2 separate regions of the Homo sapiens genome follow, and region 2 is linked to region 1. Evidence: fine-mapped expression QTL. A gene starts in region 1. The other region holds a variant in brackets. All regions are shown on one strand. Distances are between the middles of the regions.

Region 1 (13,254 bases):
ACAGGAGAGGTGGGGGCGCGCTTGGCGATCCGCCATTCCAACCTTCCTTTCCCTCTCAGCTGTGGTGTGAGAGGGTGAATCCAGAGAACAAGGCGGCGCTGGAGGCGTGGGTCAGGGAGACAGGCATCCGCCTGGTGCAGGTGAACGGGCAGAGGAAGTATGGCGGGCCACCCCCAGGTACGGTAGTCCCAGCCCCTCCGCCTGTCCGGCTACACCAGCCCCCTTTGGGGGAGGGGCTGCTCCGAGCCTTCACTGTCAGAAACTGCGAACTACCCGGATTTATACCCCCCAGCAAAGGAGGAACTGTGGCTCCACGTCCACCCGCCCCGTCGAGGGAGGGGGCCAATCTCAAGGTGTACCTACTCTGTGCCAGCCCCCTTGTTAGCGCAGTCACCTAATTATGCCAACCACCCAGGGTACGGGTGTAAACCCATTTCACAGACCTTTGTTCACATCGCCTCCCACCCCCGCGCGCTGGGTCCGTGGGCTCAGAATTCGAAAGCGTCGCCTGACGGTGGCCTTGCATACCCTCTTCCCACAGGCTGGGTGGGCAGCCCGCCGCCAGCTGGGTCAGAGGTGTTCATCGGGCGGCTGCCTCAGGACGTGTACGAGCACCAGCTTATCCCGCTGTTCCAGCGCGTGGGCCGCCTCTACGAGTTCCGCCTGATGATGACCTTCAGCGGCCTGAACCGCGGCTTCGCCTATGCCCGCTACAGCTCGAGGCGCGGCGCGCAGGCCGCCATCGCCACGCTGCACAACCATCCGCTGCGGCCGTCCTGCCCGCTGCTCGTGTGCCGCAGCACCGAGAAGTGTGAGCTGAGCGTTGACGGCCTGCCGCCGAATCTGACCCGCAGCGCGCTGCTGCTCGCGCTGCAGCCGCTGGGTCCCGGCTTGCAGGAGGCGCGGCTGCTGCCCAGCCCCGGACCGGCGCCCGGGCAGATCGCTCTGCTCAAATTCAGCTCGCACCGGGCCGCTGCCATGGCCAAAAAGGCCCTGGTGGAAGGTAGGCTGGGGCGGGGGTGCTGGTTGGGGCCAAACGCGTTCTGCCCGGCACTTTATACTGAGCATAGCTGTTAAAGTTACAAGATCTTAGAGTCAAACATGCCAGAATTTGCAACCTTTTACTATTTGATCTCAGATTTTTAAAACTTCCAATGGTGCTACCACCACCGCTTACCTAAATTTGTGACACTTCCCGAGCATTACCTCCTGACTTAATTCTCAACCTTCCCCCACCCCCACACCGCAAAATAGGCACAGGACCCTCAAGCTATGAGGAAACTGTTAGAGAAATTGATTTGCTCAAGGGAATCCAACTGAGCTTTTTACTACTATAGAATCTGTTTCCTCAGACTGTTATGAGAATTAAGTAACATAATGGGTGTACGGTACTTAGCACACTGACTGACTTACAGCAAGTTTTCCCAGTAAAGATTAGCCATTATGATGGTTATGAGGCAGACAAAGCCTGCAATTAACCAGTACTTCTCCAAGGAAACTTGTAAGGTAGCAGTGTGTTATACTCCCTTTGCAAATAATGGAGGCTGAAGGCTTCATTGTCTTTTCTTACCCATGGTCACACTACCAGGAAATGGGAAGGCTACAAATAACAGGACTGTGTAGCTCCAAAGGGCTCACCACCTGGAGGCTTGGGCCCAGGGTTTAGACCTGCCCTTGTCTTTGCATTTTTCCTACAGGGCAGTCACACCTCTGTGGAGAGCAGGTGGCTGTGGAGTGGCTCAAGCCAGACCTGAAGCAGCGACTTCGCCAGCAGCTTGTGGGTCCCTTCTTGCGGTCCCCACAGCCAGAGGGCAGCCAGTTGGCTTTGGCAAGGGACAAGTTAGGGTTCCAAGGGGCTCGGGCTACCCTGCAGTTGCTGTGCCAACGAATGAAGCTGGGCAGCCCTGTGTTCCTCACCAAGTGTTTGGGCATAGGACCTGCTGGCTGGCACCGCTTCTGGTACCAGGTGGTGATTCCTGGGCATCCGGTGCCCTTCAGCGGCCTCATCTGGGTTGTGCTGACCCTAGATGGCCGGGATGGGCATGAGGTGGCCAAGGATGCTGTGTCTGTACGGCTGCTGCAGGCACTCAGTGAGTCTGGGGCCAACCTCCTGTGGTCTGCTGGGGCTGAGGCAGGTACCATGGTTAAACAGTGACTCCATTCTTTCTCCACAGGCACCCTGAATGGGCATGCAGAGCCTGTGTCAGGCCCCATCCCAGCAGGCCTGGGTGGCCACTTTCTGACCCCCAAAGGTGGGGAGGGGCATGGGCCCAGGCCCATCAGCCTCCCTGCTGGGACAGGGACCTATGGCACCTGGGGGCAGCTTAGGTTTGGGTTAAGTTGTGGTGAGGGGCCTTGCCCTCCCGCTCCCAGCCCAGGGTCCAACCTGACCCAGTGATCTTCCATGGCCGTTCCTTGTCCCACCCCCACCCGATCATACCTTCCCCCCTCTGCCACAGCTTAGCATGAATCTTCTTTATTGTCCTGATTTGTCCTCTTTGTTGGTTTTTATTTGTGGGGAAGGGCAGCTGAGCCAAAGGGGTCAGAAATTCTGCCCTTTGCCTCCACCACATGGCATTCTGGTTTTGGTTTCTGTATAGTTTTGGGTCTTTCTATGCTGGTTGTATTTATATTAAACCCCTGGTTAGTATATACTTGTGTCTGTGCTGTCTTGCCCTAGCTTAGAGTTTGTTTACACTGGTAGAGTGAATAGCTGCTACGGGGCAAGTACTTCCTCACATCAGTGCTTTGAGTGCATCTTCTTGTGTTGCACTGTAGGGTATTATAAATTCATATCCAGGCCGGGTGTGTTGGCTTTTGCCTGTAATCCCAGCACTTTGGGAGGCTGAGGCGGGTGGATCACCTGAGGTCAGGAGTTCGAGACCAGCCTGGCCAGCATGGAGAAACCCCGTCTCTACTGAAAATACAAAAATTAGCCTGGCATGGTGGCAGACACCTGTAATCCCAGCTACTTGGGAGGCTGAGGCAGGAGAATTGCTTGAACCCGGGAGGCGGAGGTTGCAGTGAGCCAAGATCACGCCATTGCACTCCAGCCCTGGCAACAAGAGCGAAACCCTGTCTCAAAAAAAAAAAAAAAAAAAATTTCATATCCAGCCAGGCACAGTGGCTCATGCCTGTAATCCCAGCATTTTGGGAGGCCAAGGCAGGAGGATCACTTGAGCCCAGGAGTTCCAAGACCAGCTTGGTCAACATAGTGAAACCCCTGGTCTCTACCAAAAAAAAATCACAAAAATTAGTCAAGCATGGTGGCAGATGCCTGTTAAGTCTCAGCTACCAGGCAGGCTGAGGTGGATCACTTGAGCCCAGGAAGTCAAGGATGCAGTGAGCCATGATCAACCCACTGTACTCCAGCCTGGGTGACAGAGTGAGACCTTGTCTCAAAAAATATAAATTTTTTTGGCCAGGTGTGGTGGCTCGTGCCTGTAATCCCAGCACTTTGGGAAGCAGAGGCAGGTGGATCATTTGAGTCCAGGAGTTGAAGACCAGCCTGGGCAAAACAGACCCGTTTCTACCAAAAAAAAAAAACAAAAATTGGCCTGGTGTGGTAGTGCACACCTGTAGTCCCAGCTGCTCCAGAGGCTAAGGTGGAAGGACAATCTGAGCCTGGGGACATTGAGGCTGCAGTGAGCCAAGATCAAGCCAGCGCACTCCAGCCTGGACGATGGCAAAACCCTGTCTTTTCAAAAAATAATTCATATCCTCTCTGGGGATGCAGCCCAATAAGCAAGACTCTTGCCTGGTGAGGACCCGTCTCAAGATTCAATTCATTCCTTCAGTCACTGTCATCCCCAGTCTCCTCCTTTTCTTCCTGAGCCATGGAGTCTTCTCCCTCTTCCCTCAGTCCTGCGAAGAAGTCATCGGTGCTCCAAGTCTTGCTGCTCAGAGCCCGCAGTGGTCCTCCCTTTTTTTTGCGCCGACGGTAGTCATCCACCACCACAGCTCGCAGCTGGGCCATGTCCCAAAACTTGAGGCGCTGGTCATGGCCACTACTGGCCAGGAAGCGGCCACAGTGGGAGAGGGCCAGCTCCTCCACAGGCTCCCCAGTGTGCTGGCCCACACTGCCCACCACTCGGTTCGGTAGGATGTTCACAGCCCTGGGCAGGGAAAGAACAGTGTTGAGTACTGGCTAGCTGGGTCTGCCCTTCCTGTGACCTAAGGGCTGTCCAGGCTTCCCTCACCTGATGACTCCATCAGTGGAGCCAGTACACAGCAGACTCTCGGTGACTGGAACCATGCAGTCGATAGATTCAGCTCTCAGGGCAAAGCGGTCACTTGTGGCCCCAAAGCCATTCCAATTGAAGAGGTAGATGGTACCTTCACTGGAGCCACAGGCTACCTTCTTCCCCCACTGCAGGGAAATAGAGAAAACAATGTGGAAGCTGCCTCAGACTAAGCCCCCAGCACACACCCCTCCATCCCACCATAACCAGCTGTACTTTCATGAGAGTGACAGAGGTCAGGTCCCCAGACTGAGGTTCTGAGAGCAGCTCAAACCGACGCCTCTTAATGTTGAAGATGCCAAGGCAGCCATCCCCGCTGTAGAGAGTAGAGCAGTAGGCTTAGACGCAAGGTCTATTTGAGGAAGACATTTCACACAGGGAGGGGAGGGGAGGCAAGGCAGCTTTGAAGTTGTACCTGGCTGTCAGCAGCAGCTTTTTGGCTGGATCCAGAGCCATGTCTGCGATGTACTCTTCATGTTGCCTCATATCCATTAAGGGGCCCTCCTTCCGCTGGTCCCAGAGACAGATACCACCTGTGTCATCCCCAGTGGCCAGAACATTCTCATCCACCAGCAGAAGACTATTGATGGGGGCACTAGAGACACAGATGTAGAACTTCTTGGAGCATCTCTGTCCCAGTGGGGACCTCCTGGTCCTTACCCTTCACCTCCATGCACATACACAGAATTGGCTGCTCTCCTTACCCATGAGCCTTGGAAACACGTCTTTCCAGTTGGCCCTGCTCCACATCTAGAACATGGATGGCTTTGTCCTTGGAGACAGTAATGAGCTCTGGGGAAAAGGTGCCCAGGTCATGGTGCTGCTCACTGCTCCCTTCCACCACATTGCTGGTTGTCTTCCCCAGTACTCACTCTGCCCATCTTCAGAGAAGGCCACAGCTCGGCAGGCCTTGAGATGGTGACCTGATGACCAGAGCTCCTTGGTTTCTCCCTCTTGGCAAGAGTAGGAAAAGCTGGGGAGAGGGCAAGGAGGGTAAATGACTCCAGACCCAGCCTGGGTTGCATTGAGTGCAGAGACCAACTAGACAGAGCAGCCTTCCCACCTACCTAAGAGTTCCTGCTTCTACACCTCTAAGCCCAAAAAGTTTACCATCTCATTTCTCCATTTTCAGTGAGTTTGAAATGTTAGGTCCTGCTTTTTTCAATATATGTTAGTTCAAGGTATATTTGCGCAAGATTTCTTTGTGATCCCACCCAACCCCTCTTTATCATCTTTGAAAGCCCCAGCCTGGACAAAGATTGGGTCTGGACCACTGTGGAGGAGATATTTGTTACATCAATGACAAAAGACCAGCCCCAGAAGTTAGAAATCTAAAAATCAGTAAGGTAGAGCAGGCTCTTGCACTTCAGGTCTGCAGGAGCTAGAGAAAGCCACAATTAATTACAGTACATTGAGAGTACGTGCTGAAAAAGAGGCAAGATCAAAATGGAGGTGGGGGAGAGGCACCAGCCTGTAAACAACTTTGAGGTGAGTACTGTTTATGGAATACCCCCAAGTGCCTGCCTCAGAGCAGATCCTCAAAAAGGGCAGAATGAATACATGCTTAATTGCCAGTGAGTTCCAGGTAGGCAGAACTGAGCCTGCTCATTTTCTCTATCCCAGTGCTGAACGTGAAAAAGTAGCTTAATAAACATTCACAAATTGAATGAATACTTGGGAAGGGAGAAGAGAGCCCTGGAAAGCTAAGGTGGTGACATGTGGGTTGGATCATACAAGAGTAGAATTTGCCTGGCAGAGAGCAAGGGCCAGATACTGGAGGCAGCAGAGATAAGGAATGAGGAGGGTTCCTTGTAGCAGGAGAGTAGCATGACTGAATCTAGAAAGATGGGCTGGGGTGGGCATGAGACCACATGAGCCAAGCAGAAGTTTGAATTTAATCCTCGGAAAAGGAACCTTTTCACAATAGTCATGGCTGAGGGTGGGGAAGGGGAGAACCAAGAATTTTCCTCCAGAACCTTTTTTAAGACAAGGGAAGCAACAAAGTTGTGTGGAATGTGAAGAAAGGTGGATGTCTAGGGCAACTCCCAAGTGCCTGGCACCATAAATATGGATAGTAGTAGAAGGGAACCTACATTTGTTGAAGAGCTGCTTAGGTGCTGTACTGCAAACTTGTCCCCTCTGCAAGGGTAGGTATAATTCCCCCTTTCAAAGATGAAAATACAGAAGTTAACACGCTCAAGGCCATTACAGCTAATGAGGGGTTGAGGTTTAAATTCATTAAGTAAATCTGATAAGCATAACATCTTCAACTTTTCCACTGCCTCTAACCTGTATCTTTTGTTCAAAATCAAACATGTGTTGAGCATCTACCCTAGACTAGAGGTTGGAGATAAAATAGAGAACAAAACCGATGACAGATTACACTCCAGAACAGTGTTTTTTCACATTCTAGTCATATAACGGACTAGTAAGCTACGATCAGCATTTTGTGTACATGTACACAATAATAGAATAAAATCAGCAATTGTATCACAGAGCATCATATATAATGTAAAAGGTATTTCTCTGTGAGGCAAGGTCAAAGACGTTTGAAAAACATTAGTGAAGGAGACAGCATTCAAATAATTACACAAATGGACATATGGTTACCAACCATTCATTATTAAGGGAAAGGTACCATGGCACCTGGTGCCATGGCAGCATCTAACAGGTAACCAATTTTAGTCTGGGGAGAGAGGAAGAGGGAAGAGATCCTGGAAACTCAGAGATAGTAGGTAAAAGTGAGGGGAAAGGAGTTTTCCGGACAGAATAGCACATGCAAATGGGCTGAGGTTTCGAGATTTTTTTTTGAGATGGAGTTTTGCTCTTGTTGCCCAGGCTGGAGTGCAATGGCACGATCTCGGCTCACTGCCACCTCCACCTCCCAGGTTCAAGCGATTCTCCTGCCTCAGCCTCCCGAGAAGCTGGGATTACAGGTGCCCGCCACCACACCCAGCTAATTTTTCTATTTTTAGTAGAGACAGGATTTCACCATGTTGGCCAGGCTGGTCTCCAACTCCTGACCTCAGGTGATACCCCACCTTGGTCTCCCAAAGTGCTGGGATTACAGGCATGAGCCACCACGCCCGGCCCAAGACGTATTTTTAAAAGGTATGGATGAATGAGCACAGATGGTCAGGGCGTTGAAGGCAGGATTGAGAAATTTGTACTAAATCCTAAAAGCAGACCATTGAAGGGTTTTAATCAAGGGAGTGTCTCACTCTATTGTCCAAGCTGGAGTGCAGTGGCACGATCTTGGCTCACTGCAACCTCCACCGCCCGAATCCAAGTGATTCTTCTGCCTCAGCCTCCCGTGTAGCTGGGATTACAGGCCCGCGCCACCACACCGGGCTAATTTTTGTATTTTTAGTAGAGACGGGGTTTCACCATGTTGAACAGGCTGGTCTCGAGCTCCAACCTCAGGTGACCCGCCCACCTCGGCCTCCCAAAGTGCGGGTATTACAGGCGTGAGCCAAGATTTGTGGTTTGAAAAATCACTTAAAGGGGCCTGCTGAGCCTGTCTCGGGCACAATATAATAATCCGGTAGGAGTCCGGGCACGGTGGTTTACGCCTGTAATCCCAGCACTCTGGGAGGAAGGCAGGTGGATCACGAGGTCAGGAGTTCAAGACCAGCCTGGCCAAGATGGTGAAACCCCGTCTCTACTACAAATACAAAAAAAATTAGCCGGGCGTGGTGGCGGGCGCTTATAATCCCAGCTACTCGGGAGGCTGAGGAAGAGAACTGCTTGAACCCGGAAGGGGGAGGTTGCAGTGAGCCCAGATCGCGCCACTGCACTCCAGCCTCGGCGACAGAGCGAGACTCCGTCTCAAAAATAAATAGGTAAGTAAATAAATAATAATCGGTGGGAAATAACAAGGCCTTAAAGGGCTTTTTGGCCTACTACGGTATCTGGGCTCTGTCACGACATTCCAGTTCTTTCAACAGATTGGTGTGATAGAAGAGCCGAATGTTACTGAATAAATTGGACCCAAAGAATCTTGCAAAATTTGTCTCCCTGCAACTTTCTCTCATCTCTCCTGTTCCCAGGTCCACCCCCGGGAAGCTTCCAGACCCGGCGCCCCGGCCCTGCCCCGCTCTCACACGAACACGTCCCCGTCCACGTCCCCTGCAGCCAGTAGGTCACGGGCCGGATGGAACGCCAGCCCACTAGCCGGAGCTTCCAGCACGATGTCTTCCGGAGTGTCCCGGATCCGGGTTGGGGCTTCCATGGAGTCTGGGTCCTCCTCGTCGCTCCCATCCTCAGCGGGCCTCTCCTCACAAGTGCGGTCCATGCTGAGAAGGACTGCGAGCCGCGCCGCCGCAGGGTAGTCAGCCTCGGAACCACCCACACTGCGGGAGGAGTAGCCTGGCACTCCGCTTCCGCCTCGGGGGGCGGGGCCGGAAGTGTCTCCGGGACGTTCTTCCTCTTACAGGAGAGGTGGGTGGGCCGCTGCTGGTGCGGGTGGAGCGGAGCGAAGAGACCGCATCTGGGAGATCGGCTACTTCCTTGTCCTGCTGTGACCCCGTTTGGGCTAGGTAGACGGTGCGACCGTCAATTCCCTCCCTAGTCACGTCACGTAAAGTTGAGAACTGCGTGTAAATCTTTCCTCTCCTACTTCATCCAGACAGGCTTAATGCCCTTGGGATAGGAGAGAGGGACGCTAGTCCTTCGTGGCTTGGTGAAACCCAAGATCAAGTCAAGCGACAGCCTGGGCTGTCAGGAAGCCGCAAAATCCCACGCTGCGCGATGACATACGGGAGTCTGGGACAGCAGGCAGCTCAAGCAGCTGGTGTCCACGCCCCTAACGTCTTTGTGGCCAGTTTGCTGTGCCAGTTCCTACAATTTGTCTACAGAAACTCAATGGGCTGGACAAGCAGTGCTCAGTTACCAAGAATTTTTTTTTCTTTTTTGTTTTGCTTTGTTTTGAGACAGGGTCTTGCGCTGTCGCGCAGGCTGGAGTGCAGTGGCACGATCACCGCTCGGCTCAAGCGATCCTCCGAGTAGCTGGAACTACAGGCACGCGGCACCACGCCTGGCTAATTTTTATTTATTTATTGAGACGGAGTCTCGCCCTGGCTGGAGTGCAATGGTGCGATCTCGGCTCACTGCAACCTCCGTCTCCCGGGTTCAAGAGATTTTCCTGCCTCAGCCTACCGAGTAGATGGGACTAGAGGCGCATGCCACCACGCCCAGCTAATTTTTTGTATCTTTAGTAGAAACAGGGTTTCACCATGTTGGCCAGGCTGGTCTCAAACTCCTGACCTCGTGATCCGCCCGCCTTGGCCTCCCAAAGTGCTGGGACTACAGGCGTGAGCCACCGCACCTGGCCAATTTTTGTATATTTTGTAGAAACGAGGACTCAGTATGTTGCCCAGGCTGGCCTTGAACTCTTGACGTGTCTTCCCACCTCAGCCTCCCAAAGTGCTAGGATTATAGGCGTGAGCCACGGCGCCCAGCCCCTGAATTTCTTTTTTTAAATCAAGGTCTTGCTCTGTCACCCAGGCTCAGAATGCAGTGGTGTGATCATAGCTCACTACAGCCTTGAACTCTTCGGTTCGATCCTCCTGCATAGCTATAGACTCATGAACTCCTGGCCTCAAGAGACTCTCCTGCTTTGGCCTCCCAAAGCACTGAGACTGTGGGCATGAGCCATCGAGCCTGGCCTCAGAAACTGAATTTCAAACCCACAATCTCCAGGTCTTGCTTTTAGTGACTCTCCAGATGTCTTCACCTGTGCCATGTCTCTGTGACCATTTTTAATAATTGGGACTGCCTACCTACATCCATAGAACCATGGTGTCATTTGTCTGAAATTAGCCATTCTAGGTGCTATTGCAGCAAGGCCCAATTTCAGCCTCTTACATGCCATGCACAATACTGGCTTCCTCACAAAAACCTGTCCTACCAAGGTGAATATAATCAAAGACAAGGTAATGGCTAAGGTGACTTTCTAGCTTTCTTGGATCTGGTGAGGCCACAAATCTTGGGCTCAGGGTAGACAGTGGCAGCGTGGCATCCAGCCAGGAAGCAGTAGTGACACCTAATGATGAGCACCAGGCCAAAGTGCTGGTAATGAGCAGAAGGGAAGAAAAGGGAAGGGAATGGTGTGATTCAAAGGTCAACAGACCTATTCTGGGCCTTGGCAAATGTTTCAGGGTGATGAAGGGCACCAAACCCTTCTGGTCTAGGATAGGAATTCCTGTACCTGCAGGGCCACACTATATCAGCTCTAAACCCAAAGCACTTCCCTAAGGTTACACCTTTAGCCAAGGAGACAGTGATTTGTACTCAACATTAATAAAGCTCATAGTACATAAACTCATAAAAGGTTTTGGTTCCCACCCATAAGTGATTTTCATTAGATGCCTTCATCCAGAGCCCAGTCCTTCATAGCCTGGAGATCAGATTAGCAGCCCATCAGGCTGACAGCAATCCCCAGGAAATCTTTCCCCAGGGACTAGGCCTGAAGATGGGCCGGAATGAGTCTGACATTTGAGACCAATCATACTTACATTCCTCTATCCACCTCTTGCCCATCAGTGAGGATCATTATTCTCTTCTCTACTGGGCACACTGGCTAGAGAGCATCCTTACTGTCTAGGAATCTAGAACCACAGCTCAGGAAAGGACTGATGACTTTCTGCATGTGATTTTACACAACCAGTGGAATTAGTGTTCTTGGTGCTTCAAGGGCACTGGAGGGGACATGCTCAACAAAGAAAATAGCAAGTTAACCAATTTTAATGGAACCAAGTAATTACACAATAAAATTTTATATTCATCCACAAAAAAACATCTTGCAACCTTTGGAAATTGTAGAAAGAAAACAGTGGGGAGCATATCCTTGTGGAGCATCTCTGGTTGTAACTAGTGATTAGTATTTTGGTCTTTTGACTTCAACCCTGCAATGGAAGGAGAAATGGGTCAGTATAAGATCAATACACTAAGCAATTCCCACCAGTCCCACAGAGGAAGAATAATGCCGCTCACCCATCAGCTTCCATCTTCTTCCTCTTCTCAATGATCTGCAAAAACAACAGGATAGTCTATCACCAAGCTGCCCATCTAAGCTCACCTGAGGCCCAAGGCTGACCTCTCATTTCCATGGCTCTCCAGCCCCTTGCCTGTTCCTGAATCTGCAGGCTAATGTCTTCTCCCAGCTGAAACCCTCCCACCCAAGGGGCCATCCTACTTACTGCACTAATCTTCTTCCACTGGCGATCAAGCTCTGCTTTGTCATTGGTTTCCTTGAAGCGCCTGGTTTTCCGCCCTTCAGACATTTTGATACCATACTGGAATGCAGCCCTGAAAAAAGCAGTTGGGAAAGAATGCATCAGAGATTGCATAGCAGTGGCGAGGTTTTCCCAGAGTCCTGTGGGCAAAGAACTTAGTGGGGAACATCTCAGCCAGACCACACCCTCTAACCTTATATGCACTATTCCACCAAATCCCCACACCCCTCCTCACACCCTGCCCATATTCAGTACCGACTCACTTGGGCAAAGCTTCTTTGTTGTTCATATACTCGCTGTATTCTTCCTGGGTATCAAAGTCCCAACGGCCTAAGGGCCCCTTCTTGTTACCCTGTTGCAGGACAGAATCGGGGGATGGGGAAGGAAGAGATGTCAGTGGAAATGGAATTTCAGCCCTTGATTGAAGCCAGACTCTCCCATAATCCCAGGTTCCACAATTCATAAATCATACCCTGATAAGTAATAATAAATGCTTATTACATACTTACTATGTGACAGGCATTATTCTGTACACTAAATGCATATCTCACTTAATTCTCATAAAATCTATGAAGAGGGAACTATATTTCTCTCCATTTTCCTGATGAGGAAACTGAGGCATAAACAGTGAAAGAACTTGGCAAGTTCACAAAACTAATAAACAGTAGAGGCAGGATTAAACAAGGCTCCAAGATTAAACCATGCTATTTCAATACAGTGAACTCAGGGGAAGAACACAGACTTCTTCACTATTAGTGGCATTAGTGGTTTTTTTCTTTTTAATTTTGCTTAAGACTTAGAGGAAAACTTCAATCCTGGCTAGAATAAAATTTAGTTATTTTCCAAAGACTGCAATTTTTTCTGCCCTTTCTACTTATGCATTGATGCTTGCTTACTGCCTACCATGGGAATCAAAGCCTGGCACTTTGCTATAGGAAGTAAAAAATAGATTTTTGACCCTATGTCATTTGATCTTGTGCAAAGACTCTGAAATAGTTAAGCTGCTCATGACCCTCAATGCTGCTGTTTCTACTGCTGCAGCTAAAGGAGGGTGGGGCCCAGTAAATGAGATAGATTTTTTAGGAGTGGGGAAGGAGATACATGTAAAACAAATAATAACTGCCCAAAGGCGCCCACCATCCTTCTAACTACATACCTGGTCCATTTTGCTATAATCCACCTCCTCATCACTATCCACAGCCATGTCATCCATCCTAAGGAGAAGCAAGAGTTAAACAGATGTTGCATACCCTGACCCTATGCTTCATCTGGAAACCTACCCGACTAAGAGGTTATCTGCATAGGAATGACCACCCCCTAGACCTCCCACTTAGAGCCTAATAAAATAGTTCATCCAAGTAAGAAGTAGCCTTGGGCCAGGCGCAGTGGCTCACTCCTGTAATCCCCGCACTTTTGGAGGCTGAGGAGGGCAGATTACCTGAGGTCAGGAGTTCAAGACCAGCCTCACCAACATGGTGAAACCTCATCTCTACTAAAAATACAAAAACTAGCCAGGTGTGGTGATGCATGCCTATAATCCCAGCTACTTGGGAGGGTGAGGCAGGAGAATCGCTTGAACCCGGGAGATGGAGATTGCAGCGAGCAGAGATTATACCATTGCATTCCAGCCTGGGTGACAGAGTGAGACTCTGTCTCCAAAAAAAAAAAAAAAAAAAAAAGAAGTAGCCCTGGGACTTAGCGAATCAAATTTCCATTTCACCCCCAACTTGTTTCCCAATCATCCCAGCCTCCCTTCCTTAACCAGGTTTCACATACGT
Region 2 (16,187 bases), 71 kb before region 1:
AAAAATGGGAGACTGGAGAGAGAAAAAATATGTTTCAGGAACTATGGTACACCTTTTGTCAGATTTTAGTCTCATCAGTTGTTTTTGAGTTTTTTGTCTGCAATTTAGACTGCTTATTCCTGTAAACCAACCAGTGGTGTCTGGCTGATAGAAGAAACAAGAAGGATAGGTGATATAAAAATGTGGATCAATATTCTAATTCTGGGCATGTATTGAAATCAGCTAGTGACTCCATATTAGCTCAGTTCCAACAGTTGCCTAGCTTATGGAAAGCCTTCTTATTTAGTTTACTTGAGATAACTTTACTTATTTTGCTTTACTTTTGTGGAATATATTGGTGTTGTGCTCTTTGCATAGGAATGCAGAACAAGCTTACTCAATGTTTTCCCAAATTAAACACTTATTAATCTTCCAGATGTCACCTTTTATCAGTACTCAGGGTTATGAATGGTGCTTGACATACTGATGCTTTCTGATTGAGCTACTCTCTACCCTGAATACAAGAGACCCTAATAATTAGGCAGGAATATCATTGCCCCTATTCAGCCTGAAAAAGTTACAAAACATGGATCTTCATCCTGCTACAACCCTTAGGATTAAGAGTTTTCTTATAAAAGGGAGGGAGGGGCCAGGTGCAGTGGCTCACACCTATAATCCCAACACTTTGGGAGACTGAGGCCAGTGGATCACTTGCGGTCAGGAGTTCGAGACCAGCCTGACCAACGTGGTGAAACCCCGTCTCTACTAAAAATACAAAATTAGCTGGACATGGTGGCACACACCTGTAATTTCAGCTACTTGGGAGGCTGAGGCAGGAGAATCACTTGAACCTGAGAGGCAGAGGTTTCAGTGAGCTGAGATCATGCCATTGCACTCCAGCCTGGGCAAAAAGAGCAAAACTCTGTCTCCAAATTAAATAAATAAGTAAATAAATAAATGGGAGGGAGGAAGTCTGTCAGAGGCCTTTGAATCAGAGCAACTCCATCTTGAATGGAGGCTGGGTAAAATAGGGCTGAGACCTACTGGGTTGCATTCCCAGTCACATTCTAAGTCACAGGATGAGATAGGAGGTCGGCACAAGATACAGGTCACAAAGACCATGTTAATAAAGCAGCGTGTGGTAAAGAAGCCAGCCAAATCCCACCAAAACCAAGATGGCGAAGAACGTGACCTTTGGTCATCCTCACTGCTCATTATATACTAATTATAATGCATTAGCATGCTAAAAGACACTCCCACTAGTGCCATGACAGTTTACAAACGCCATGGTAACATCAGGAAGTTACTCTATATGGTCTAAAACTAGGAGAAACCCTCAGTTCTGGGAATTGCCCACCCCTTTTCCAGAAAACTCATGAATAATCCACCCCTTGTTTAGCATACAATCAAGAAATAGCCATAAAAATAGGCAACCAGCAGCCTTCGGGGCTGCTCAGCCTGGGGGATAGCCATTCTTTATTCCTTTACTTTCTTAGTAAACTTGCTTTCACCTAAAAAAAATACCCAACATCAATTATCATTAGAAAAATGCAAATTAAAACCATATAAATATCATCTCACACCAGAAAGAGAGGGAAAATAAGTGTTGGAAGGGGTGTGCAGAAATTGGAACCTTTGTGCACTATTAATGGGAATGTAAAATGGTGCAGCCTTTTTAGAAAACAGTAAGGCAGTTTCTCAGAAAATTAAAAATAGAATTACCGGCAGGGCACGGTGGCTCACGCTTGTAATCCCAGCACTTTGGGAGGCTGAGGCCAGTGGATCATGAGGTCAGGAGCTCGAGACCAGCCTGACTAACATGGTAAAATGCCATCTCTACTAAAAATACAAAAATTAGCTGGGCATGGTGGTGTGCGCCTGTAATACCAGCTACTAGGGAGGCTGAGGCAGGAGAATCGCTTGAACCCGGGAGGCGGAGGTCGCAGTGAGCGGAGATCATCCCATCACACTACAAAATGACAAATACTATATGATTCCACTGATATGAGGTCCCTAGAGTAGTCAGATTCACAGAGACAGAAAACAGAATGGTGGTTGTCAGGAGCTGGAGGATGGAAAATGGGAAGTTGTTGTTTAATGGGCATAGAGTTTCAGTTTTGCAAGAAGACAGCCCTGAAGATTGACTGCCCAACAATGTGAATGTGCCTAACATTACTGAACTGTACACTTAAAAATGGTTAAGATGGTAAATTTTATATTATGGATTTTACCACAGCTTTTTAAAATTATTTTAAAACTGGCTGTCACAAAAAGGAAAAGAATATCAGGTGAGATTGGTCTAGATTAAAGAGACTGGAGAGATGTCATGACAACTAAAAGCAATGCATGATCTATAATTGGTTCCTGACTTTAAAAAATATTATATATATATATATTATATATGTATATATGTATGAGTCCAATTGTCCAACCAAGTACCAAATGTCATTCTTCATTTCTTGCAGGCACTCACATTCTCCACAGAGGCCTACTGAATTCTTTCTCATCACATGGCTCCCTAGATGAAAGGAAAGGTCTCACACTGTGACAACCTTCCCCCAACCCACTATCAAGGATTCTGACAACTATCCCTTTCCCTAGTACCGTCTTTATACAAACTGGGGATTGGGGAAAGGTAAGGGGGTGATATCGTGATTGGTTATCAGAAAGCTGGCTTGGCCACTAACTCTTGGCAATCAGGTGGAAGCTACTCTTAGAATTACTTCTTTCTGTTTTCAGCATAGCTCAAATTCCTGGGCAAAAGAAAAACTCTTAACCAGATGGGGCAGCTCATGCCTGCAATCCCAACATTTTGGAAGGCCAAGGCGAGAGGATTGCTTGAGCTCAGGAGTTTGAGACTAACCTGGGCAACAGAGTGAGATGCCCTCTGTACAAAAACTTCTTAAAAATTAGCCAGGTATGGTGGCATGTGCCTGTAGTCCCAGCTACTCGGGAGGCTGAGGTGGGAGGATGGTTTGGGCCTGGGAAGTTGAGGCTGCAGTGAGCTGTGATTGTGTCATTGCACTCAGATCTGGGCAACAGAGTAAGATGCTATCTCAGAAAAAGAGGGGAAATCCCTTGCATATTATCCTTTTACTTATTATGACAATTATTATTCTCTTTTCCCTTGTTTTGCTTTTTCAGGCTGGTCAACTATCTGTTCATTTGCTCTCTTCTGTATATGGGTGTAGGGGCATGGCTCTGCCACGTTGACCTGCCAACCTTATATGTACTCACATAGGCCATACAGGCAAGGCTTAACCATAATTAATCAAAGTCTTGGCGGACATTCTGTGATCCTTGGGGAACAGGCTTATGAGGAACTACCACAAGGCCACTTTCAACTCATCTTTTTATCTTCTTGGGAGGCTGTCATGAGGCAGTTCTTATCACTTCCCAGGTTCTGATAAGGTATGAGGCATTCTGCCTCATCTTTCTTAGGGCAGAACTGCAAGCCATAAACTTCTTAGTTGCAAATGGACTCAGCTCCTCAGCAACAGGGTGTCTCATTACTCAGGTTGCCATCCCCTTTTGTATTGGTGCTGTCCTGTGGGAGAGCTGGAAATTCTGCTTATTTCCTTTTGTGTCTATGTAAGTAATAAACTGTCTGAATCAAACAAGGACTGCTGTTTCTTTACTAATCAAAGCTGCTAGGATTTGCCTGAGAATGGGTTCTTATTTTTCCTTGAAGTTCTGTTTCAAAATAGTTTCTTTTTCAAACCTTGTCAACTTGTCTTGGCAACCAGGGATTTGGTTCATATCTGGGAGAGATGACAGTAGTGAGAAGCTGCTCAGAGGAACTGTGGGGATCTGGAAATTTGGTGAAGAGCAGATTTACTCATGGAGTAGGTCTCAAAAGACTCTTACCAAGGCTAACCTCCAGAGTTTCTGTCCCAACCTTAAACCTCTTCAGCTCCTGACCCAGCCTAGTCTTCTCAGGAATCCATGCCGTTTTAGACCCCTCCTTGAAAAAGGGCTCTCTCCCATCTCCAAGAAAATGATAAGCTTGGTGGGGACATACATAGAGGACTAAAGAGGGTCCATGGACATCAAACCTGCCCCCAAAACACAGACAGGAAGAAGCATGCAAATATATCACTGAGATAATGCAGAAAGTAGATTGAATTTGGAGTTCCTTGACAGATAAGTGTCATGAGTTGGTATACCCTGGGCAGTAGGGTCAGCCTAGGCCTGAATGGTTCAAGAACGATGCTGAGTTTTAAGTTTCCTTCTACCCACCACAACTTCCAGACCAGGACACACAAACTTGGGAAGCCCCCATTTGAGGATGCACACCACTGAGAGAAACCCATGTCTTCCTTTCCCTAAAAACTGTTCCCCCAGCTGTGTCTAGGCTCACTCTCCCTCCTCCCACTCAGTGGCTACCTGCCACAAGTCTTGGACCAGCCTCAGTGCTTCCCAGATGACCAAACCGGGGTCATTTTAGCTCAAATCAACTTTCACAGCCAGTACATGAGTCAGACCCATGAAATCCTCCCAAACTGCCAAATGCCAGCCTTGGGTCTTTAAAGCTACCAGAGCTTCATTGTTACCTGGTTACTAGGTAATAACCCACAACAATTACTCCTCTCTGGATCTGGGCCTAAACATTCTGGTATCTTATAGCTCTTTTGTATTAATACTTTCTCTGATTACCTGAAATGATATACCACATAGAAAACTGTACTAAGAGTTATTGAAGAATGTGCAAAAAATTAACAAGAGGTCCAAGGAAAACTAAGCACATGAAGAAAAGTCAAGCATTAACTTCAGGAAAAGTAGAAAGAAGAAAAGGAGACAATCATGGTATATGACCATGTTCTGCTGGGAATTATATTTTGCAAAGGCATAAAAATGTTAACATGAATATTCATCTAACAAAGAATTGTTAGGGCCAGGCACAGTGGCTCACACCTATAATCCCAACACTTTGGGAGGCCGAGGTAGGAGGATGGCTTGAGCCCAGGAGTTCGAGATCATCCCATGCAACACAGTGAGACCTCATCGCGACTAAAAATAAAAAATTAGCTGGGCGTGTGGTATGTGCCTGTGGTCCCAGATTCTTGAGAGGTTGAGGCAGGAGGATCGCTTGAGCCCAGGAGGTGGAAGCTGCAGTGAGCCATGATCGCACCACTGCATTCCAGCCTGGGTGAGAGAGCAAGAGCCTGTCTCAATAAAAGAAAAAGAAAGAAAAGAAAAATTAAGTCATTTCAATCATATACAAACTATCCTAATTAATAAGAAGGAACACTTCCTAAATGATTTTCTAATGCTAAAATAACCTGATAGTGAATCCTATTGTAAAAAATACACACAAAAAAGGAAAAGCCCAGTCTAATGTCATTAATGTAAATAAATGAAAAAAAACCCATACTAATTATTAGAAAATTAAATCCAGTAGTACATAAAAAAGAATAATACAGCATAAGTAGAATTTCTCCAAGATATGAGGTTGACTTAACATTATAAAAGTAATTAGTATATATGCAAAGTTAATGAACTAAAGGGAAAATCATGATTATCTATGTACATGCAGAAAAATTACTTAATAAAATTCAACAACCTTTCATGATTTTAAAATAATCTTAATTAATCTTAAGATTTTTAGCAGATATTAGTTGTATCCTTAGGCATATAAGAGAATATTTGTAACTTGGTAAGGGTGTCCAGGGGAAAAAAAAAAAGCTAAAGCAAACATCATACTTAATGGTGAAATGATTAAAGCTTTCCCTTTGAAATCCAGAACAAGACAGGGATGTCTGCTATCATCACTTTAATCATCCTGTCGTCATTGTTCCAAAGGGCCTAACCAGTGTATACAACAAGAGAAAAATATAAAGGTCTGAGGTGTTCATATGGCATTCTCCATGGTTAGAAAAAGAAGGGGAAAAGTATAAGGAGGTTATTCCGTAGGATTTTGGGGAACAGGTGGTATTTGGTTACGTGAGTAAGTTCTTTAGTGGTGATTTGTGAGATATTGGTGTACCCGTCACCAGAGCAGTATACATTGAACTCAATTTGTAGTCTTTTATCCCTCACCCACTTCCCACCCTACACCCCTGAGTCCCCAAAGTGCACTGTATCATTCTTATGCCTTTGCAGCCTCATAGCTTAGCTCCCACTTATGAGTGAGAAGATACACCTTCTTATATGAAACTTTTTTATTTAGAGTTAAAACTCTGTATGTTTAGAGTTAATACGAGTATAAAACTCTCCTTATTTAGAGTTAATATGATTATAAACATTATAATATCCAGCAAATTTACAGAAAAACTAGTAGGTAATAAGAATAGCAAATTTTCTGAACATGGAAGTAAATATTCATGAAAGGTCATTTATAAGAAAAACAAACCTGA[C/T]GCTTCATTATAAAAACAAATATTAATTACATCTCATGGGTCAGAAGTAAAATTTTTAAAAATAAAATAGGTTTTAAAATTTAAAAATATTAAATTGGCAGTGAGGGAGCAACTCACAAATTATTTTATAACGACAAATGTTATCATAAAGGCCCATGCTTAAGAATCAGGCTGAAAGTTGCTTGTTCTGGGCCAGGGGTGGTGGCTCACGCCTGTAATCCCAGCACTTTTGGAGGCCTAGGTGGGTGGATCACTTGAGGTCAGGCGTTCCAGACCAGCCTGGCCAACATGGTGAAACCCATTTCTACTAAAAATATAAAAATTAGCCAGGTGTGGTGGCCCACACCTGTAAGCCCAGCTACCAGGGAGGCTGAGGCAGGAGAATTGCTTGAACCCTCCAGGCGGAGGTTTCAGTGAACCAAGATCACACCACTGCACTCCAGCCTGGGCAACAGAGTAAGACTTTGTCTCAAAAAAGAAAAAAAAAAGTTAATTATTCTGCAGAACTTGGAGGTGATCCCAATGGTACCTCTGAGAAGCCACCCTGTCATTCTAAAAAGGATGAATACGATTAAGAAACATGTTCACCAGCCTGGGCAACATGGTGAAACTTTGTCTCTACTGATACAAAAATTAGCCGGGAGTGGTGGTGTGCACCTGTAATCCCACGAAACTGAGGCATGAGAATCACTTGAACCTGGGAGACAGAGGTTGCAGTGAGCTGAGATCGCACCACTGTACTCCAGCCTGGGCAGCAGAGTGAGACTCTGTCTCAAAAAAAAAAAAAAAGAGAGAGAGAGAGAAAGAAAGAAATATATTCAGAGGAATCCTATGAAGAAATAGAAAGTAAAACATCTAGTATTTCATCATTAATAGGTAATCATAGAGAAGAATAAAAAGAAGAATAAGGAAGGATATGAGGAGAATTGTTACTAAAGGAAATCTATGTTGTATTTTACTAATTGTTCATTTTGGGGCTTTTTTATTTTTATTTTTTTGTAGAGACGAGGTCTCACTATGTCACCCAAGATGGTCTCAAACTTCTGGCCTCAAGTGATCCTCCTACCTCGGCCTCCCAAAATGCTGGGATTATAGGTGTGAGCCACTGCACCTGGCCTCCTGTTCATTTGGATTTTCACTTCTCTGTTTTATTCTTCGTGCCTTCATCTTACTTTAATATTTTCTAAAATTCTATTTTGAGTTAATACTATGTTTTTTAGTGCATCTCTTTGTATAACATGTTAGCGGTTGCTCTGTCCACAACTTATCAAAGTCTATTCATTTTTTTCCGTCTAATTTCTCTCTGTTGTTTAGGTTGGATAATTTTTATTATTCTATCTTCTAGTTCACTTGTTATTTTTTCTGCCTCCTCCATTATGCTGCTGAACCCACCCACCCCATCCACTGAGGTTTTTATTTCAGTTATTATATTTTTCAGTTCTAAAATTTCCATTTAGTTCTTCTTTTATCATCTATTTCTTTGCTTATGCATTCTATTTTTCATTTATTCCAAGAATGTTTATAATTGCTTATTGAAGCATTTTTACAATGGCTAATTTAAAATTTCTGTCAGATAATTCTAATATCTCTGTCATCACAATGTTGGCATCTGTTGATTGTCATTTTTTCATTCTGTTTGAGATCTTCTGGTATGATAAGTAACTTTTCATTAAAACCTGGATATGTTCATATTATATTCCGCTACTCTGGATCCTATTTAAACCTTCTGTTTTAGTGGGATTTCTCTGATACCATTTAGGCAGAAGGGGGAACAGAGAAAGAAGGAGATGTCACCTAATTACTGCCAGGTGCAGGCAGAAGTCCAGGTTCCCCACAGAGCCTCCATTGCCACCTGAAGAAGGGAGCTCATTGTTACTGCTGGGTAAGCATGGAAGTTCTGGCTCCCCTGACACCACAGTGAGGATGGCCACATTACCACTGGGTAGAGGTCTAAGTCCAGTCTTCTCATATAATCCCCCCTGCTGGGAAGGGAAGTATTAACAAAAGATCATGAGATTTGAGGAAGAAGAAAAAAGAGAGTTTTATTTCCTATAAATGGTTACAATCTGCAGGTTGGGAAATGAAACATCCAGCCAAAATGAAAAGCATCTGCTTCAGAGACAAAAGGGAGAAGCTGGGACTTATGCCCAACAAGATGAGCTATATGTACATATTCAGTAGCTTATAGGAGAATCTATGAATATTTGAGAAAACCCTAATGCATGCAAAGAGAATAAACATATATGTTACATATGTTCCATGTTCATTTTGGGGTGGGGATTTAATAGTAAAGTGAAGTGGCACGTGGCTGTTTATATATAACAAGGTGAAACAGAACACAAAGGCATCTTGTGCACAGCCTCTGTGGACTAGGTGCAATCAGTCTGTGGTCGGTGGTCAGTATAACAATGGAATGTTTAATAAGGCTGGTCAGTAGTCATGGTGAAACCACGATAAAAGAGGGGAGGTCAGCCATGACATCAAGAGGTCTCTTGAGGTTGAGGGAGAAATCTTCCAGACAGTTTTTTAGGAACTCGTTTCTGTTTAATTGTAGGAAGGAAAGTTTTGAGGCAGTTAACAAGGTAGGGGAGTGTTGAGGTGTGACTGACCTCTTGCCTTGCCAAAGCCATAGAATGCAGTTTTCAAAGTTTCTGGGGTCTCTTTTGCAACAAGAAGTCCATTCTGTTTCACCTAGGGGCTTAGGGACTTTAGTTTTATTTCACACTTTCCAGCTTTAGGCTGAAATCTGCCATAGGCAGCATTGATGGCTAAATTTTCTAACATGTCCCATGTCGTTCCCAGGATGGTGTGGATACCTGCCCCAGGTCTATCTAGTCTGTCAGTGGGACTCATGTGGCTAGGAGACTTACAACCAGTTGAATATTTTAGGCCAGGCAAGAAGGAGGCAGACAGCTATTAAGACCCTTTGAACCTTTGAGACTAGAAAAACAGTAACAACAGAAAAGTTGAGAAGGTAAGTTTATGTTTATGTTGTCTGTCATTTCTATGCATTGTGCTACCATAACTTTGGTTTTAGTGACAGACTTGAAGTAGTTGGTTATAGATCTTATAAGTACTTTGACTATCAAAAATAGGAACAAGATAGTGATATGATAATGACAAGGGTTTGTAAGATGGATTGGAAGTAATTTCTAATACTGCAATGAGTCAGCTAAAAACGTTATTAAGGGGATCTGTGGTTTGTACCTCCTGTAACCAGGCAGCCTGTTGGGTGATCTTACCTACATGGGTTGTTAAATCTCCTATAATGTTGATATAAGTGCAACAAGTGGTGTGGGCTATCATGCAAATTCCCCCTTGTTTAGCAATGAGAAAACCTGGTGCAATTTGATTGTCTAAAACCACTTGAGCGAGAGAATTTAAGGACTTCTACTGTGTCATAATACTTATTGCAGCATTTTCAGCAATTTGTCCTATGGTGGCCGGCATTTTTTTTTATCGTATCTCTGTTAGTGTATACTCCGTAGCTGAGAAAAATTACACCCCAAAAACTATGCTACCACATATCCTGATATCCACTTGGTAGCTCTCTTTTAGCTTACCGGAAAGCAAGATTTTCTTTATGATTGAGATGGATGGAAAAGAGGGCAACGTAATGACCTAGAAGGCAAAGTCCTTCAACTTGCCAGCTGTTTATGCATCTGTGTGCCTCTTCTTGAACTGGGGGATCTGACTCAATTCTATATAGGAAAGTGTGTCCTCAAGGGGCACAAGTTATACCTCCAAGGGTATGCCAATTTATACGTTCATTTATGAACAAGATATCTATTATGTGAGTGAACCACGAACTGGTTTTGTTGCAAGCCTTCTAGAAGCCTGCAGAGGCATGATATCTAACAAAGAGGAGCTGTTGTCAGTGTTTGATATTTTTTCTTTGGGCATTCAGTGGTTATGTACAGTAGCAAGGGTGGGAGTCCCAGAATCTAAGGAGAAAGCTACATAGACATAAAAATCTTAATCTTTTTAAAACTCAGTTTTCTGGTTTGGTGCAGTGGCTCATACCTGTAATTCCAGCACTTTGGGAGGCTGAGGTGGGAGAATTGCTTGAGCCCAAGAGTTTGAGACCAGCCTGGGCAATATACTGAGACCTAATCTCTACAAAAACCTTTTCAAAAGAATAGTAAAATTACCTTTTACTCAAAAGGGTAAGGGTTAAGGTGTGGGTTTGGTAACAGAAGTGGTCAATAAAACTAAAATTGTGAGGAGTGAAACAGAGGAGTCCATTTTAGTTATAAAAAAATTAAACCAAGAGAGAAATCATAAATTCCATACAAATTGCTGAGGGTCACTATCTAGAGTCTGGGGGTATTCTTTAAGGTAATGGAGTATTTGATTAACAAGGAGCATGGTAACTATGTTTTCTAAAGTGAGGATTATAGGCTCTGGGAAAGGGATTTTGGACTTGGAGGTGGATGAGAAATTTTAGAAGTATCTAAAAATGGAATACAAGGGTAAGCATTGTAGCACAACATAGGATCTCCAGAATACATAATATTCCCAACGTCAGGGTAATCAGTCAATAACGCAGGTACTTGAGGCAATGGCAATGGTAATTTGTCTTAAGTCAAAAGTGGGCGAGTTAAAATACAGCCCTGGTCCAGCATCTTGGACAGGCAGTCCACCTCAGCTGTCATCTTCTTCTCAGCCATGAGGTGGAACCCTAGTCTAAGTCTGGTGTCAGATACTGGTGTTGAGGTCCAGTCTTCCGCGGAGGGAAGAACTTCGTTATTCCAAGTGAGAAATTGGTATTCAAATATGTTAAAGTCTTTTCGATAGAAAGCAATTTGGATTATAGCTTATTGCAAATGTTTTTAGAGAAGAATTAAAAACAGTAACTGTAGATGACAAAAACTTAGAATGGCTATGGTTAAAATCTAATGAAAGTTCTCAATTGACAAGAACATTTAGTTATTTACATTATATGTAGTATTTTAAGATAACAACCAAAATTATGACTGATAACACATTAGATCTTTCTGAATTTATATAAATTTTGAACCATTTATATCAACAACATATCATAGTGTAATTAAAAGAAGATCTAGTATTGCTTATTATTTGACAATGTTTTTATATAATTTACCAAATAAGCCTAATCATTTAAAATATCTCTATAAAATGAGAGATATATCTGTTGAAGCTTTTTAGGGGCCCAATTAGAAAATCTTAAAGTTAATTCTAAGTAAAAAGACTTAATTTAGGATTGATTTTGAGGATGTTTGTCAAAGATGTTAAAAGGCCCAAAATATTTGATCAAAACAGGATCACGGGTCATTGTAAAATAATATTCATTTAACCGAAGTGACAATCAAAAGACTTTAAAAGTAATACAGAAAGCTACATAAACATAAAAATATTAATCTTCTTAAAACTCAGTTTTCTGACTTGGTGCAGTGGCTCACGCCTGTAATTCCAGCACTCTGGGAGGCCGAGATGGAGAATTGCTTAAGCCCAAGAGTTTGAGACCAGCCTGGGCAATATACTGAGACCTCATCTCTACAAAAACCTTTAAAAAAAAATTAGCCTAGGATGGTGGCACATGACTGTAGTCCCAGGCGTTTAACTGTAGGAAAGAAAGTCTTGAAGCAGTTAATGAGGTAGGGGAGTTTTGAGGTGTGACCGAACTCTTACCTTGCCAAAGCCATAGAATCCAGCTTTTAAAGTTTTCTGGGGTCTCTTTTGCAACAAGGAGTCCATTTCATCTTGCCTGGGGACCTACGGGCTTTATTTTTATTTCACAGAGGGAAAAAGGGAACCTCATAACTGGTCAGCATGGATAAAAATTTTGTCCCCTATTTGGCCTTCTTTAACACCACGTTGGTGGGGTCTTGGGGTAACTTCTTATAGCCGCTCAGTGGTGGAAGTTTAGGCTCCTACTCAGCCTTTGCTGAAGTGGGTGGGGCCATAGTTGTTGGAGTGTGTGTGTGTGTGTGTGTGTGTGTGTGTTTGGTGTTTGGCTGGGGTAGAACAGTTATTGTCTAAGAATTTTATGTCTTTCTAAGCTGTCCTCTTCCTGATCCTGGTCCTATGAATAGAGAAAGCAGACTTTTGCTGGGGCTTTTAAAATCTGCGTCCATTGGCATTTCCAGATTGCCAGCTTCTTCAGTTCCAAGTCTGGAATACAAAAGGAAAAAAAAACTTACGACTGTGTTGTACCTTGAGTCTTGAGATCCCTAGCTGGTCTGCCTTTTGTCTGCCTTTCATTGTATTACATTTGTTTTATGTACAATGCTTTGGGGTTTTAGCAGGATGAATGGGGAATATTACATTTACTCCACCTTCCTGGAAGCAGAAGTATGTGTAATATTTTGAATAAATACCATAAACTATTCCATGCATTCATGAAATATGCAATTTCTCATTCACCAATGTAAATGGCTTGATTCACCATTATAGAACCATGCATAAGTACAACAAGGAAGTTTTATTTAGGGAAACTCAAGCAAAAATAAAAAGGCAATTTGTCAAATGTAAAAAGGTATTTGCCTGCAAATATAAGAAGTATAGACCAAGCGCAGTGGCTCACGCCTGTAATCCCTGCATTTTGGGAGGCCAAGGTGGATGGATCACCTGAGGTCAGAGTTCGAGACCAGCCTGGCTAACATGATGAAATCCCGTCTCTACTAAAAATACAAAAAATTAGCTGAGCGTGGTGGCACGCACCTGTAATCCCAGCTACTCACTCAGGAGGCTGAGGCAGGAGAATCACTTGAACCCAGGAGGCAGAGGTTGCAGTGAGCCGAGATCCTGCCACTGCACTCCAGCCTGGGCAACAACAGCAAAACTCCGTCTCAAAAAAAAAAAAAAAAAAAAAGAAGTATAATAAACACTTTCTATGTTCCAAACCTCTTGCTAAGCACTGTTGTAGCTCTCATAACCTATACTATATTGAGGAGCCCAAATTGCTTTCGAAAGTATTTCTACTTTCAAAAGTATTAAGTCTTTTGACTTACTTTCCATACAGCAATGCAAATAAGCAACTGCTACGCACAACAAAATAGATGAATCTAGAAACATAATGAGGGTCTTTGGCCATACCATCTTGAACGTGCCCGGTCTCCTCTGATCTTGGAAGCTAAGTAGGGTCAGGCCTGGTTAGTACCTGGATGGGAACATAAGGAGGAATGAGAAAATCAGTCACGTATTATTCCATTAATACAAAGTTGAAAAAACAAAACAATCGTAATATTAGAAATCACCTCAAGGCTTTCTTCTGAGGACAAGTGTGAGAGAAGTGACTACAGGAGGCTCTAGAAGGGCTTTATGGAACAGTCCTATTTATAGACATGTGGTGATTTCATGGTTTTCTTTACTTTGTATTAATTCATAGAGCTGTAAATTTATGATTTGGGTACTTTTTTGAAAATATACTATTTTATCTAAAGATGTATTTTTAAAAAAAGACGCACACTATTCAGCATTCAAGGTTAAATAAGAAAATACATTACGTGGGCCGGGTACAGTGGCTCACGCCTTTAATCCCAGCACTTTGGGAGGCCGAGGTGGGCAGATCACGAGGTCAGGAGATCAAGACCATCCTGGCTAACACGGTGAAACCCCGTCTCTACTAAAAATACAAAAATTAGCCGGGCGTGGCGGTGTGCACCTGTAGTCCCAGCTGCTGGGGAGGCTGAGGCAGGAGAATGGCTTGAACCCGGGAGGCAGAGCTTGAAGTGAGCCGAGATCGCGCCACTGCACTCCAGCCTGGGCGACAGAGCAAGACTCCGTCCCAAAAAAAAAAAAAAAGAAAAAGAAAAAGAAAATACATTATGTGAATTTATTCTATATACTTAAAATGAAGATTTTGTCTTTTTTCATGAAAATACAATGAGGTACCAAATTACAGCCATAAAATTGACAAAAATTTTTAAAGTTGTACAATGCCAAATATTGGGGACATGATACACTGCTGGTAGATGTGTAAGCTGGTAGAAATACTTTGGAAAACCACTGGGCAAAACTATAGAACTGAAGACATGAATCCACTAAATACTTAGCAGTTTGACTCCTAGGTATGTACCCTGGAGAAATATATGCTGAAGTGCCGCAGGACATATGTATAAGATGGGAATATCTGTTTTTTCTGGGTTTCAGTTATTATGAACAATGAACCAAAACTAGAAATGCTACAAATATCCATCAATATTAAAATGAATAAGTAAATCATCTTATATTCATTAAATGGAATAGTAACCCACAACATAAACAAAATGGATAAATCTTACAAATGTATTATTGAACAAAAGAAGCAAAACAAAACAAACACTTCAATATAACTATATTTATGAAAGTAATCAAAATAGGAAAACTAAATTATAGCACCCAGGCATTCATACATAAGTGGTAAAGATATAAAGAAGAGTGAGAAAATTATTATTATAAAAATCAGGTAAATGGAGGGGGCGGGCACAGTGGCTCACGCCTGTAATTCCAGCACTTTGGGAAGCCGAGGTGGGCGGATCACTTGAGGTCAGGAGTTCGAGACAAGCCTGGCCAAAATATTGAAACGCTGTCTCTACTAAAAACACAAAAATTAGCTGGGCATGGTGGCACATGCCTGTAATCCTAGCTACTCAGGAGGCTGAGAGAGGAGAATCACTTGAGCCCAGGAGGCAGAGCTTGCAGTGAGCTGAGATACCCCCACTGCACTCTTGCCTGGGTGAAAGAGCAAGACTCTGTCTCAAAAATAATAATAATAGTAATAGAAATATTAATAAATAAATAAAAATCAGGTAAACAGGGCTGGGCACAATGGTGCATGCCTACAGTCTCAGCACTGGAGAGGTTGAAGCAAAAGGATCACTTGAGCCCAGGAATTCAAGGCTGTTGCCACTATGATTATACCTGTGAATGGCTACTATACTGCAGCCTGGGCAACATAGCAAGACCATCTTCTCTAAATACAATAAAAATAAATAAGATAAACAATCAGGTGAATGGTTAATTCCAAAAGAAAGTGAAGGGATTGTAAAAATCAAAAGAGAGAGAGGGTTTCTGGGATGTTGGCAATGTTTTCTTACCTTAGTAGTGATTATATGGATTCATTTTATAAGCATTTATTTAAATCTATGTATTTACCTCATGAATTTTCTGCATGTATGTTATATCTCACAGTTTAAAAATGTTTAATTAGTGAACAGTAGAAAATTGATACAGTCATCATAAGCATACATGCATCTACAATACAGTCTTGAACTACATCAAATAGGAAAAAATACATAAATCACCAATTGTAGTTGGAAATGTTTTAATATGCATCTCTAAGGACTGTAGATCACATAGACCTGAAAATAGTATGGATATGAATGAGCTGAAAAGAAAAACAATTTTAAAAATATGTAGACCCAAAATAAACAGGCATTATTTTTGAATATATATATAACACTTACAACAATAGACCATGTGTTAGGCTATAAATTCCACAGATCTGATCCCATTCAGACAATGTTCTCCTATTACAATGCATCCTGGAATTAACATTTGTAAAAACAATAGCTAAAATAAAATCCCATGTGTTTGGAAACTAAATAACATATTACTAAATAAGATTCTGCTTAAAAAATACTTAGAAGTGAATGAAACACTACATGAAGAATTTGTGTACTACAACTAAAGCAGTACTTAAAGGTAAACTTGCAGTTTTAAATACACTAATGATTAAGAAAGATTAAAATCAAATGAGCTGCCACAGGAGATACAACCTCACACCCTTCAGGATAGCTGCTATCAATCACACACACACACACACACACACACACAGAGAGAGAGAGAATAAGTGTTAGTGAAGACATGGAGAAATTGAAGCATTTCTGCACTATTGGTGGGAATGTA

What was found. PIP is the estimated chance that this variant, and not a neighbour inherited with it, causes the effect.
Region 2: its variant is fine-mapped to the expression of WDR55 in whole blood (TOPMed, PIP 0.98).

What each region holds. Positions count from the first base shown.
Region 1 is chr5:140,660,194-140,673,447 of GRCh38, reverse strand. It overlaps WDR55 (WD repeat domain 55), which reads right to left and starts at 8,544. Exons shown (of 7, transcript NM_017706.5): 1 at 8,345-8,544; 2 at 5,114-5,214; 3 at 4,946-5,033; 4 at 4,657-4,836; 5 at 4,458-4,557; 6 at 4,200-4,369; 7 at 1,103-4,115. The coding sequence starts at 8,535. The coding sequence ends at 3,794. IK (IK cytokine) reads right to left here. Exons shown (of 20, transcript NM_006083.4): 15 at 13,253-13,254; 16 at 12,633-12,690; 17 at 11,740-11,828; 18 at 11,441-11,549; 19 at 11,235-11,269; 20 at 10,968-11,146. The coding sequence ends at 11,119. It overlaps LOC124901088 (a long non-coding RNA gene), which reads left to right and starts at 8,011. Exons shown (of 2, transcript XR_007058968.1): 1 at 8,011-8,083; 2 at 8,291-11,037. DND1 (DND microRNA-mediated repression inhibitor 1) reads left to right here. Exons shown (of 4, transcript NM_194249.3): 2 at 60-177; 3 at 542-1,003; 4 at 1,698-2,654. The coding sequence ends at 2,155. RefSeq lists enhancers at 1-202, 203-998, 8,410-8,539, 8,890-9,049, 8,467-9,133.
Region 2 is chr5:140,729,368-140,745,554 of GRCh38, reverse strand. LOC105378198 (a long non-coding RNA gene) reads right to left here. Exons shown (of 4, transcript XR_001742904.2): 2 at 13,395-13,458; 3 at 11,988-12,470. Among named protein-coding and RNA genes, the nearest start is that of ZMAT2, 37 kb to the right of the region's middle. The variant C/T (reference allele first, on the strand shown) is at 6,336.